Linked DNA regions of Homo sapiens: region 2 is linked to region 1. Evidence: fine-mapped expression QTL. A gene starts in region 1. The other region holds a variant in brackets. All regions are shown on one strand. Distances are between the middles of the regions.

Region 1 (5,394 bases):
AGATTTTGATCCCCTTTCATACAGGTCTTAGAAAAAAATTATACTGTTTTTTATTTTTGGTTAAGATCTCTACCTCTCTTTCCAGGCTCTGTGCTTTTTAAAAAGCCCCTTTAAAGAAAACGAAATATCCAATTATTCTGTTGTGAAATAATTATGTGACCTATTCAGCCTAATAATATTTTAGCTAGATGCTTAGAGACTTAAAACTCATTTTAGACTTTATGGCATGCACTCTAGATTCTCCTTCAGGAAAATGTCATTGAAGAAACAGGTTTTTGGTAGTTATGAGAAATATATAGCACATGTTTTCTAGACAAAAGTAATAACTGGCTATTAATCTGAAATATTAATCTGAAAATTGTGATCATTGAAAAGAAGACTCACATCATCTCCTTCTACTTAGATTTGTCTTTTCATAAAAAATGGACTCATTAGGTTTTGTCGAATAAAATATGGTTTAATTATTAGACTGGTCCTTCACATGAGTGAGAAGGTAAAAAATTTATAGAAATGTTGGTGGGCCTTCCAATGATGTTGAGATTCCCAAGGTACTTATTGAGAATGCACCAGTTAACAAACTCCATTTTGTGATCAATACAGTGCTTCCAGAAAGATTTTATGAACTCCTGCATAAGAGGCAAATAGAAGTAATTCTTTCCTTCTCTTCTCACTCCTGGCAAGTGTTCATTCACATGCTGTAGGATTTGGTATCCTTAGAACCTGAAAGGATCCTTATGACACAGTCTCGTATCTGTTTGGTTTTCACCCCATAGACAATAGGGTTCATAGTGGGTGGTAGGAGCAGATAAATATTGGCTACAATGATGTGGCAAGAAGGGGGGATTATGTGTTCCCCAAAGCGGTGGGAAAAGAAGGAGAAGAAAGCTGGAGTATAGGAGAAAACAATGGCACAAATGTGGGCAGTGCAGGTATTAAAGGCCTTCTGCCGAGCATCTGCTGAGGAGAGGCTGACCACTGCCCGGAGAATCATGGTATAGGAGTTGGTGATACACAGTATGTCAAAGCCCCAAATCAGGAGGGCAACCATCAGACCATAGATGGCATTGACCTTGACATTACCACAGGACAATTTGGCTACAGACATGTGGTCACAGTAGGTATGGGGAAGTATATTGCCTCTGCAGTAGGGCAGGAGCTTGGTGAGGAAAGTAAAGGGAATAATGAGTAATACCCCTCTCAGGAAGGTGGCAGTCCCAACCTTTGCAATTACAGGATTGGTGAGGATAGTTGAATAGCGTAAGGGGTAGCAGATGGCCACATAGCGATCCAGGGCCATAAGCATAAGCACCCCAGACTCCATCCCTGTGAAGGTGTGGGTGAAGAACATCTGGACAAGGCATTCATCAAATCCAATGTCCTTGAGATGAAACCAGAAGATGCAGAGGGCTTTAGGGATTGTACTAGAGCACATAACAAGGTCAGTAAAGGAAAGCATGGCCAAGAAGTAGTACATGGGTTTGTGCAGGGCATCCTCATAGTGAATGAGGTAGAGGAGTCCACAATTCCCTACCATAGCCACAACATACATAGAGCAGAATGGGAAGGAAATCCAGAGTTGTGTGTCTTCCAGTCCTGGGACTCCATTCAGAATAAATGAAGCTGGTATTAGGTCTGTTTTATTCAGTGTTAGCATGATAAGTCTGGTAGGTTATGAAATAGCTCAAAATTTGTCTGGGCTTTCCTAGAGTTAAAAAAAAAAACAAGAGAAAATATAGGTTATTTTTACTGTCTCCCTCTCCCCCAACTTTTAAAAATTCCATAATGCATTTTAATGGTCCAACAACCAAATTTCTGAGTGCCAAGAAATAATTTTGTTTGTCTGTTTAGTTTTATTGATTGATTAATTAATTGATTCAGTAAAAAATTCTTATTGAGCAGTCTAAGTTTTCAACACAGATGCCAATCAAACATCAATTATTTTATAAAAAGACATATTCCCAATCTCATAGATTTATAATCAAGTATAATTCTGACTTTTCAAATGGTATTTTTATTAGAATATCTTACTTAACTATAACTATACTCATCTCAATATAGATATAATTTTAAAGAAGAGTCATTTGATTACCTCACTGATGATCTGAGAGATGAGATGTTGACTTTTTAATTTTTATTCTTAATGACTGACTGATATTTATTCTTGGGTACTCAGGCACTGTTCAAAGAATTTTGAAATTTTAATTAAATTATTACTCAATGAAGCTTGGGGTCTCAAAAATTAGTAAATTTATTGGGTGTCTATACTCAATAATAATTTAATTGTATATTTTAAAATAACTAAAATAATATAATTGGGTTGTCTGTAACACAAAGGATAAATGTTTGAGATGATGGATACCCCTATTTACTTTACTGGGATTTTTTTTTTTTTTTTTTTTTTTTTTTGAGGCAGAGTCTTGCTTTGTTGCCCAGGCTGGAGTGCAGTGGCGCAATCTTGGCTGCAACCTCCACCTCCCGGATTCAAGCAATTCTCCTGTCTTAGCCTCCCGAGTAGCTGCGACTACAGGCACATGCCACCACGCCCAGCTAATTTTTGTATTTTTAGCAGAGATGGGGTTTCACTATATTGGTCAGGTTGGTCTCCAACTCCTGACCTCAGGTAATCCACCCACATCAGGCTCCCAAAGTGCTGGGATTACAGGCATGAGCCACTGTGCCCGGCCCTTTAAAAGGGATTATTACACATTGTATGCTTCTATCAAAATATCTCATACACCCATAAATATATACACCTACTATGTGCCCACAAAAATTTAAAATTAAAAAAGTCAATGAAGTTTTGATTCAATTTTTTCACTTTTCAAGATATCTTTCTTGTTCTTTATGTATCTAGTCAACGCAAACTAGAAGATATCCAAATGCATACATACAGAAAATATATAAAGTACTTCAACAACATCAGTAAGAAAAAGTTGCAGGAAGAAACATACACTTCAAAAGAGAAATAAAATTGCCAATGAACAGGTAAATAGGCACAAACTTTTATATTAATCAGAAAAATAAGTAAAAATTGTATCTCTCATGACAAAGCACCTTTTTTTGGTATGTAGTGACATACCAAACAGGACAGCTAAAATGAAAAGAACTAAAAATACCAAGCATTGGCAAAGATGTAGAACAACTGGAACTCTCATTTACTGCTGGTAGACATGTAAATTAGAACAACTCTTTATTAGATATCTCATAATGATAAACATACACATGACCACCATTGCCATTTCCAACAAAACTATGTATATATATTTACTAGAATACATCAATTAGAATGCTTATTGAAACATGATTTGTAGTATAGCCTAAAACTGGAAAAAACCTAAATGTTCATCAACATCAAATGGGTAAATAAATTTTGGTACATTCCCACAATGAAATACCACGTAACAATAAGAATAAACAATCTATGACTATATGCATAATATAGACGAATCTCACAATATGTGTTAATTTTTTTTAGAAAGACTTAAAATAGATGTAACATCTTGTGATCTTTAAATGAAATACAAAAACGGATCAAATTATTCTGTGCTATTAGAAATAGAAAAATCTTTTTAAAAAGTGAGAGAGAGTGATAACTGAAAGGCAGTATGTGGTAGAAGGGTCCTGTTAGTTGCTGGTCATATTCCCTTACTTGATTTGGTTGTGAGATATACAAGATTCAGGTTGTAAAAATCAATCAACATGTAATTGGATTAATTGTAAAATTGCATATGTATGTTAGAATTTATAATAACAAAAATTAAATTGCCAAGAGGATTAAAGGACGTAATATGTTAAAACATGCTACCACATTTTAAGTGCTCAATACCCATATTTGTATTTTCTACTCAGGCTGGCAGCCATTTTGGCAATGCTTACAAAAATTAACACCATAGGAATCATGAGTGCCACCAAATGAACTCTCTTTTGTGCCCCATCAGAGGAGGTATTCATCCTAACCTCCATTAATAAAATACACTGTTTTAAGATTAGCATCTGATAGGAAGTACAGTCACATGTTCTGCCTTATTGGGTAAGATGAAGAGGACAGATCAGATTTATCAAAAGGCAACTTGTTTTGAAAATAGTAGAAAAACACAGGTTAAACTTGTTAATAGGCATGCTCCTCAAAGATATGTACTCAAGTCATTACAAAATGTCAGAGTTATACTGGGTGTCATAGGAGCACCTGTGTGTCTAACCTAGCCTCAGGAGATGCTCCTAGAGAAGAGGACAGATGCTTCCAGACCTGGAGCATGATTAGAATTCTGACAGGTCAAAGTGGTAGGAACAGCATTTTCTTCTGTTGCTGTTTGCTGTTTCCTACTCATATCGCACTGACATTCTCAGCTTTGTGATAGGCAAACCTCTATCTCCTTGGTGCTCCCTTTGCCCACTCCCCTCAAATGTAGCTAATCCCTATACATTCTTCAAGCAGAACCATCATCAGGAGGTCTCAAATGTCCTTTGGACATGATAGCGACCCATCCTTTAAATTATTTTAAGATAATGTAGCTACCAATAGCCTTGACTAGGGGTAAGAAATTGATTTGTTCAAACAATTATTCTCTTTAATAATATTTCCCTCATGATATTATGAAAATCAACTTATATTTAGGAATTCTCCAAAATTCAGTGAAATCACCGATGTAAGGACAGTGTCTGGTAAAGCATCCTCAGAGCCGAGCAAATCAAATCTCTCATATTAGATACTCAATAAATGTCAATTTTAAAATAAATAAACAAATAAGTAAATGAAAAAGTGAATGACTCACCCGAAACACTTTATTTTGATAATTATTAAATTATAATCTAAGTATTATTAGATTGGTGCAAACATAATTGCGGTTTTTACCATTAAAAGTAATGGCAAAGCCACAATTCCTTTTGCACCAACCTAATATTACTTGGAATGTATAAAAGAAACCACTAGAAGGAAAAAAAAGAGAAAGTTTTACTTAAGATTACTAGAAAAGCTAAACAACATAAGGCATCTCTCTCATAAAGTAGAGAAACAGAGAATACAAAGTGGAAAAAAAAAGATGACAAAGGCAGAACAAACATTGGTTTTGGATATAAAAATAATTTAAACTTCCCATCAAGTTGAAATAATTCCAACTAATTTTTAAAAATTATATATGCAGTATAAGATTTCATCAGAATGAAAATTATACACAAAGGTTTAAAAATATATACAAACATAATATTTTTAGATAAACAGTATACCTCATACTTAGGATATACTAATACTAGAAAAAAGAATTCAAAGCTAAAACACTCAAGTCAAGATCACTTTGAGAAGACAAAACGCTTAGCATTGTGTAATTAAAGGTAATTGTACCAAATTGTTTTTTTTCCAAGTTTGATAAGGTTTTTCTATAACACAAATAACGAAAA
Region 2 (5,394 bases), 36 kb after region 1:
GTCATTATTTTCATTTCACAGTGGGGATAATTTCCTTGCTTTGGAATTACTGAGATCAAGAAGGTCTCCTGTCCCTTAGCTTCTCTGACCAAGGATAAACATCTTGGCAGCTAAATCTGCCAACATAACATATTTCTACCACTAGCTGATTCCCCCAGGAATTGCATCTACTTAACATTCCTTCCTCATACTCACAGCTGCTGGATTACCAGACAAGTTTCTGACCATGGTCAGTGGTTGTGGGTTCTTCTTTCCAGCAACCCTATTTGGTCACTTTGTCCCAGAACTCCTTAGTTTTCACTCCATAAATTATAGGACTGAGCATTGGAGGTACAAGGAAGTAAAGGTTGCCAAGAATGATGTGGACATGGGGTGGAATGCCTTGGCCAAAGCGGTGAGCGAGAAAAGAGAAAAGTGAGGGAGTATAAGAAATAAGCATGACACAGATGTGTGTGGTGCAGGTGTTGACTGCTTTGTGGTGGGCTTCCTTAGAAGAGAGATGCATTATAGCCTGGATGATTAGCACATAAGATGAAGCAATAGCTGAGAGATCCAGCCAGCAACCAACAAGGCCACCACCAGGCCATATATCCTGTTGACTGTAGTATCTACACAAACCATCTTCACCACAGCCATGTGCTCACAGGAGGTGGTGGGGATGACACGATTGGCATGATAGGGCATTTGCTGAAGGAGGATGGGCATGGGGAGAATAAAGAGGATAGCTCTCACCAAACTCACTAAGCCAATGAGTCCAGTGCAACTATTGGAAAGGATGGTGGCATAGCGCAAGGGCTTGCAGATGGCCACATAGTGGTCAAAGGCCATGGTCATCAGGACAGCTGACTGCATGGCAGAGATGGAGTGGATGAAGAACAGCTGAACCAGGCATCCTTCATAGCTGATCTCACTCTGGCCAAACCAGAAAATGCACAGCACCTTGGGAATGGTGGTTGTAGACATGCCCAGGTCTGTGAGGGCCAACAGACAGAGGAGCAGGAACATGGGTTTGTGCAGGGAGCGCTCTGTGGAGATGGTGAGGAGGATGGTGCAGTTCCCAAGCACCATAACGAAATACATGGAGGAGAAGGGGATAGATATCCATCTGTGTTTGTCCTCCATGCCAGGAATTCCTTGGAGAATGAAGAAAGAAGGGTGGCCCTGTGAGGCATTGCAAGCAGTCATGGTGGCACCCTGCCGAAGTACTTGTGGAGAACAACAAAGAGGCTACATGAGCTTCAATTTAAAAAAAGAGCTTCAACATGGAAAACAAAGATCGAAATGTTATACACACAAATGATTCTGAAATCATGACGCTATGTATCATAGGGTATAGTTGTAATAGTACAGTAGCAATAATGAAGTATAACTTCATTCATATCCAAGAGGATATATTTTATGCTAAATGTTTTTATTAAGGACAAAATGATTCATTATTAATAAAATATTAAATAAATTTTAATATATTAAGAAATAAACATGTATCAACTTAAAGAACAGAACTTGAAGTATGTACAGCAAAAATGCATGGCATACAAAGAGGAGCTGACAAAATGCAATATACTCCTTTCGGAAACCAAAAGATGAAATGTATTCAACACAACAGATTTTTTTTTAATTAAGATGACTTAAAAGCTTATAGTAGAATTATGCATCCAAAAATTAAAGAATACACATTTTCAGCAGATACAGGATATGAGGGAGTGGGAACCTTATTGATGAGAATGGTGCAATGATGATGAAGAATGAAGTGGGCAATGGGGTGCTGGACAGCTGAGGCTCACCAGAATATGAACATAAAGCCCACCCTCATCAAGAACACTTACCTGAAAGAGAGGCAGTGAGAGGATAGGCAGCTGGTCCCAGACACATTCTGAGAATGTGTATGTGTGAGTGTGTACATAGGTATGTAGGTATATCTTAAACACCCATATGACTCTTGGAGAGCACACCCGTGGCCTTGCATCTCTCCATACTTCACTTCTGGGCACCCAGAATCCACGGTGTGGTCTTTTAAGTAACCTAAGTAAAGGCCCTCAGGGTGCCCAGCATTAGCTCTTTGCTTACTTCTGCCAACCCCAACCTTCCACCTCCCAAAAGACAAGGCACAACTATTATTATGTGTAAAACTGACCCTGGAGGTTGCCTGAGCTCCCAAGAGATGAGGATAATTAGTCTTAGGAATTCAGGAAATGTTCCAGACTTTGCCAATCTTGGAGGAGTTTGAAGAGAGAGAGGGTGAAGATAAAACTGAATCAATGGATGGATGGATAAATAAGCAAACTGTGGAGTATATGTAGAATGCGAATATTGTTCAGGCTTAAAAAAGGAGGATATCCTGCCATTTGACGTAACATAAATGGACCCGGAGGAGATGATACTGAATTAAATAAGCCCATCACAGAGAGACAAATACCACATGACCTCACTTACATGTGAAATTTGGAAAAACGGGGGGTCAAACATATAGAGAATAAAACGATTACCAGGGTCGGGGTCACAGAGAGGAAATAGAGATATTAGTCAAAAGATACAAAATAGCAAACATGCAGAATGAACAAGTCAAAACACCTAATGTACAACATGGGCACTATAGTTAATAACAGTATATTGTATCAGGATTTTTGTTGAATGAGTAGATTGTAGCTGCTTTCGCTACATGAGGAAAAATGGATAACTATGTGAGATGATGAATATGTTAATTTGTTCCACTACAGTGGAACATATATATACTACAGATATAGATATGTTATAACATCGTGTTGTATACCTTAAATATACACAATAAAATTTATTTTTAAAACAAAGTTGAATCTGATAACTAGATTGGGGACTAGCAGTTTTGGCATTCTTTTTTTTTTCTGTAAAAAGAAAACAATCCAATTTTTATTTTTTTTTATTATTATTATACTTTAAATTTTAGGGTACATGTGCACAATGTGCAGGTTAGTTACATATGTATACATGTGCCATGCTGGTGTGCTGCACCCACTAACTCGTCATTTAGCATTAGGT[A/G]TATCACCTAATGCTATCCCTCCCCCCTCCCCCCACCCCACAACAGTCCCCAGAGTGTGATGTTCCCCTTCCTGTGTCCATGTGTTTTCGTTGTTCAATTCCCACCTATGAGTGAGAATATGCGGTGTTTGGTTTTTTGTCCTTGCGATAGTTTACTGAGAATGATGATTTCCAATTTCATCCATGTCCCTACAAAGGACATGAACTCATCATTTTTTATGGCTGCATAGTATTCCATGGTGTAGATGTGCCACATTTGCTTAATCCAGTCTATCATTGTTGGACATTTGGCTTGGTTCCAAGTCTTTGCTGTTGTGAATAGTGCCGCAATAAACATATGTGTGCATGTGTCTTTATAGCAGCATGATTTATAGTCATTTGGGTATATACCCAGTAATGGGATGGCTGGGTCAAATGGTATTTCTAGTTCTAGATCCCTGAGGAATCGCCACACTGACTTCCACAATGGTTGAACTAGTTTACAGTTCAGTACCGTAAACTACTGTTTCAGTACTGTTTACTACTGTAAACAGTACTGTAAACTACTGTTTCAGTACTGTTTACCAACAGTGTAAAAGTGTTCCTGTTTCTCCACATCCTCTCCAGCACCTGTTGTTTCCTGACTTTTTAATGATTGCCATTCTCACTGGTGTGAGATGGTATCTCATTGTGGTTTTGATTTGCATTTCTCTGATGGCCAGTGATGGTGAGCAATTTTTTCATGTGTTTTTTGGCTGCATAAATGTCTTCTTTTGAGAAGTGCCTGTTCATGTCCTTCGCCCACTTTTTAATGGGGTTGTTTGTTTTTTTCTTGTAAATTTGTTTGAGTTCATTGTAGATTCTGGATATTAGCCCTTTGTCAGATGAGTAGGTTGCAAAAATTTTCTCCCATTTTGTAGGTTGCCTGTTCACTCTGATGGTAGTTTCTTTTGCTGTGCAGAAGCTCTTTAGTTTAATTAGATCCCATTTGTCAATTTTGGCTTTTGTTGCCATTGCTTTTGGTGTTTTAGACATGAAGTCCTTGCCCATGCCTATGTCCTGAATGGTACTGCCTAGGTTTTCTTCTAGGGTTTTTATGGTTTTAGGTCTAACGTTTAAGTCTTTAATCCATCTTGAATTGATTTTTGTATAAGGTGTAAGGAAGGGATCCAGTTTCAGCTTTCTACATCTGTCTAGCCAGTTTTCCCAGCACCATTTATTAAATAGGGAATCCTTTCCCCATTGCTTGTTTTTCTCAGGTTTGTCAAAGATCAGATAGTTGCAGATATGTGGCGTTATTTCTGAGGGCTCTGTTCTGTTCCATTGGTCTATATCTCTGTTTTGGTACCAGTACCATGCTGTTTTGGTTACTGTAGCCTTGTAGTATAGTTTGAAATCAGGTAGCGTGATGCTTCCAGCTTTGTTCTTTTGGCTTAGGATTGAGACTTGGCGATGTGGGCTCTTTTTTGGTTCCATATGAACTTTAAAGTAGTTTTTTCCAATTCTGTGAAGAAAGTCATTGGTAGCTTGATGGGGATGGCATTGAATCTATAAATTACTTTGGGCAGTATGGCCATTGTCACAATATTGATTCTTCCTACCCATGAGCATGGAATGTTCTTCCATTTGTTTGTGTCCTCTTTTATTTCATTGGGCAGTGTTTTGTAGTTCTCCTTGAAGAGGTCCTTCATGTCCCTTGTAAGTTGGATTCCTAAGTATTTTATTCTCTTTGAAGCAATTGTGAATGGGAGTTCACTCATGATTTGGCTCTCTGTTTGTCTGTCGTTGGTGTATAAGAATGCTTGTGATTTTTGTACATTGATTTTGTATCCTGAGACTTTACTGAAGTTGCTTATCAGCTTAAGGAGATTTTGGGCTGAGACAGTGGGGTTTTCTAGATATACAATCATGTCATCTGCAAACAGGGACAATTTGACTTCCTCTTTTCCTAATTGAATACCCTTTATTTCCTTTTCCTGCCTAATTGCCCTGACCAGAACTTCCAACAATATGTTGAATAGGAGTGGTGAGAGAGGGCATCCCTGTCTTGTGCCAGTTTTCAAAGGGAATGCTTCCAGTTTTTACCCATTCAGTATGATATTGGCTGTGGGTTTGTCATACATAGCTCTTATTATTTTGAGATACGACCCATCAATACCTAATTTATTGAGAGTTTTTAGCATGAAGGTTGTTGAATTTTGTCAAAGGCCTTTTCTGCATCTATTGAGATAATCATGTGGTTTTTGTCTTTGGTTCTGTTTATATGCTGGATTACATTTACTGATTTGCATATATTGAACCAGCCTTGCATCCCAGGGATGAAGCCCACTCAGTCATGGTGTATAAGCTTTTTGATGTGCTGCTGGATTCGGTTTGCCAGTATTTTATTGAGGATATTTA

Direction of the effects. Positions count from the first base shown, and alleles are read on the strand shown. Sizes are in standard deviations (SD) of each study's normalised expression.
For the expression in stomach of the gene that starts at base 2,152 in region 1, A is the low allele of the variant in region 2 and G is the other (moderate effect, 0.62 SD a copy in GTEx).

What was found.
Region 2: its variant is fine-mapped to the expression of OR52N4 in stomach (GTEx, PIP 0.94).

Annotation. Positions count from the first base shown.
Region 1 is chr11:5,751,001-5,756,394 of GRCh38, reverse strand. It overlaps OR52N4 (olfactory receptor family 52 subfamily N member 4), which reads right to left and starts at 2,152. Exons shown (of 2, transcript NM_001005175.5): 1 at 2,090-2,152; 2 at 437-1,702. The coding sequence starts at 1,654. The coding sequence ends at 689.
Region 2 is chr11:5,715,081-5,720,474 of GRCh38, reverse strand. It overlaps the pseudogene OR52U1P. Among named protein-coding and RNA genes, the nearest start is that of OR56B1, 19 kb to the left of the region's middle. The variant A/G (reference allele first, on the strand shown) is at 3,016.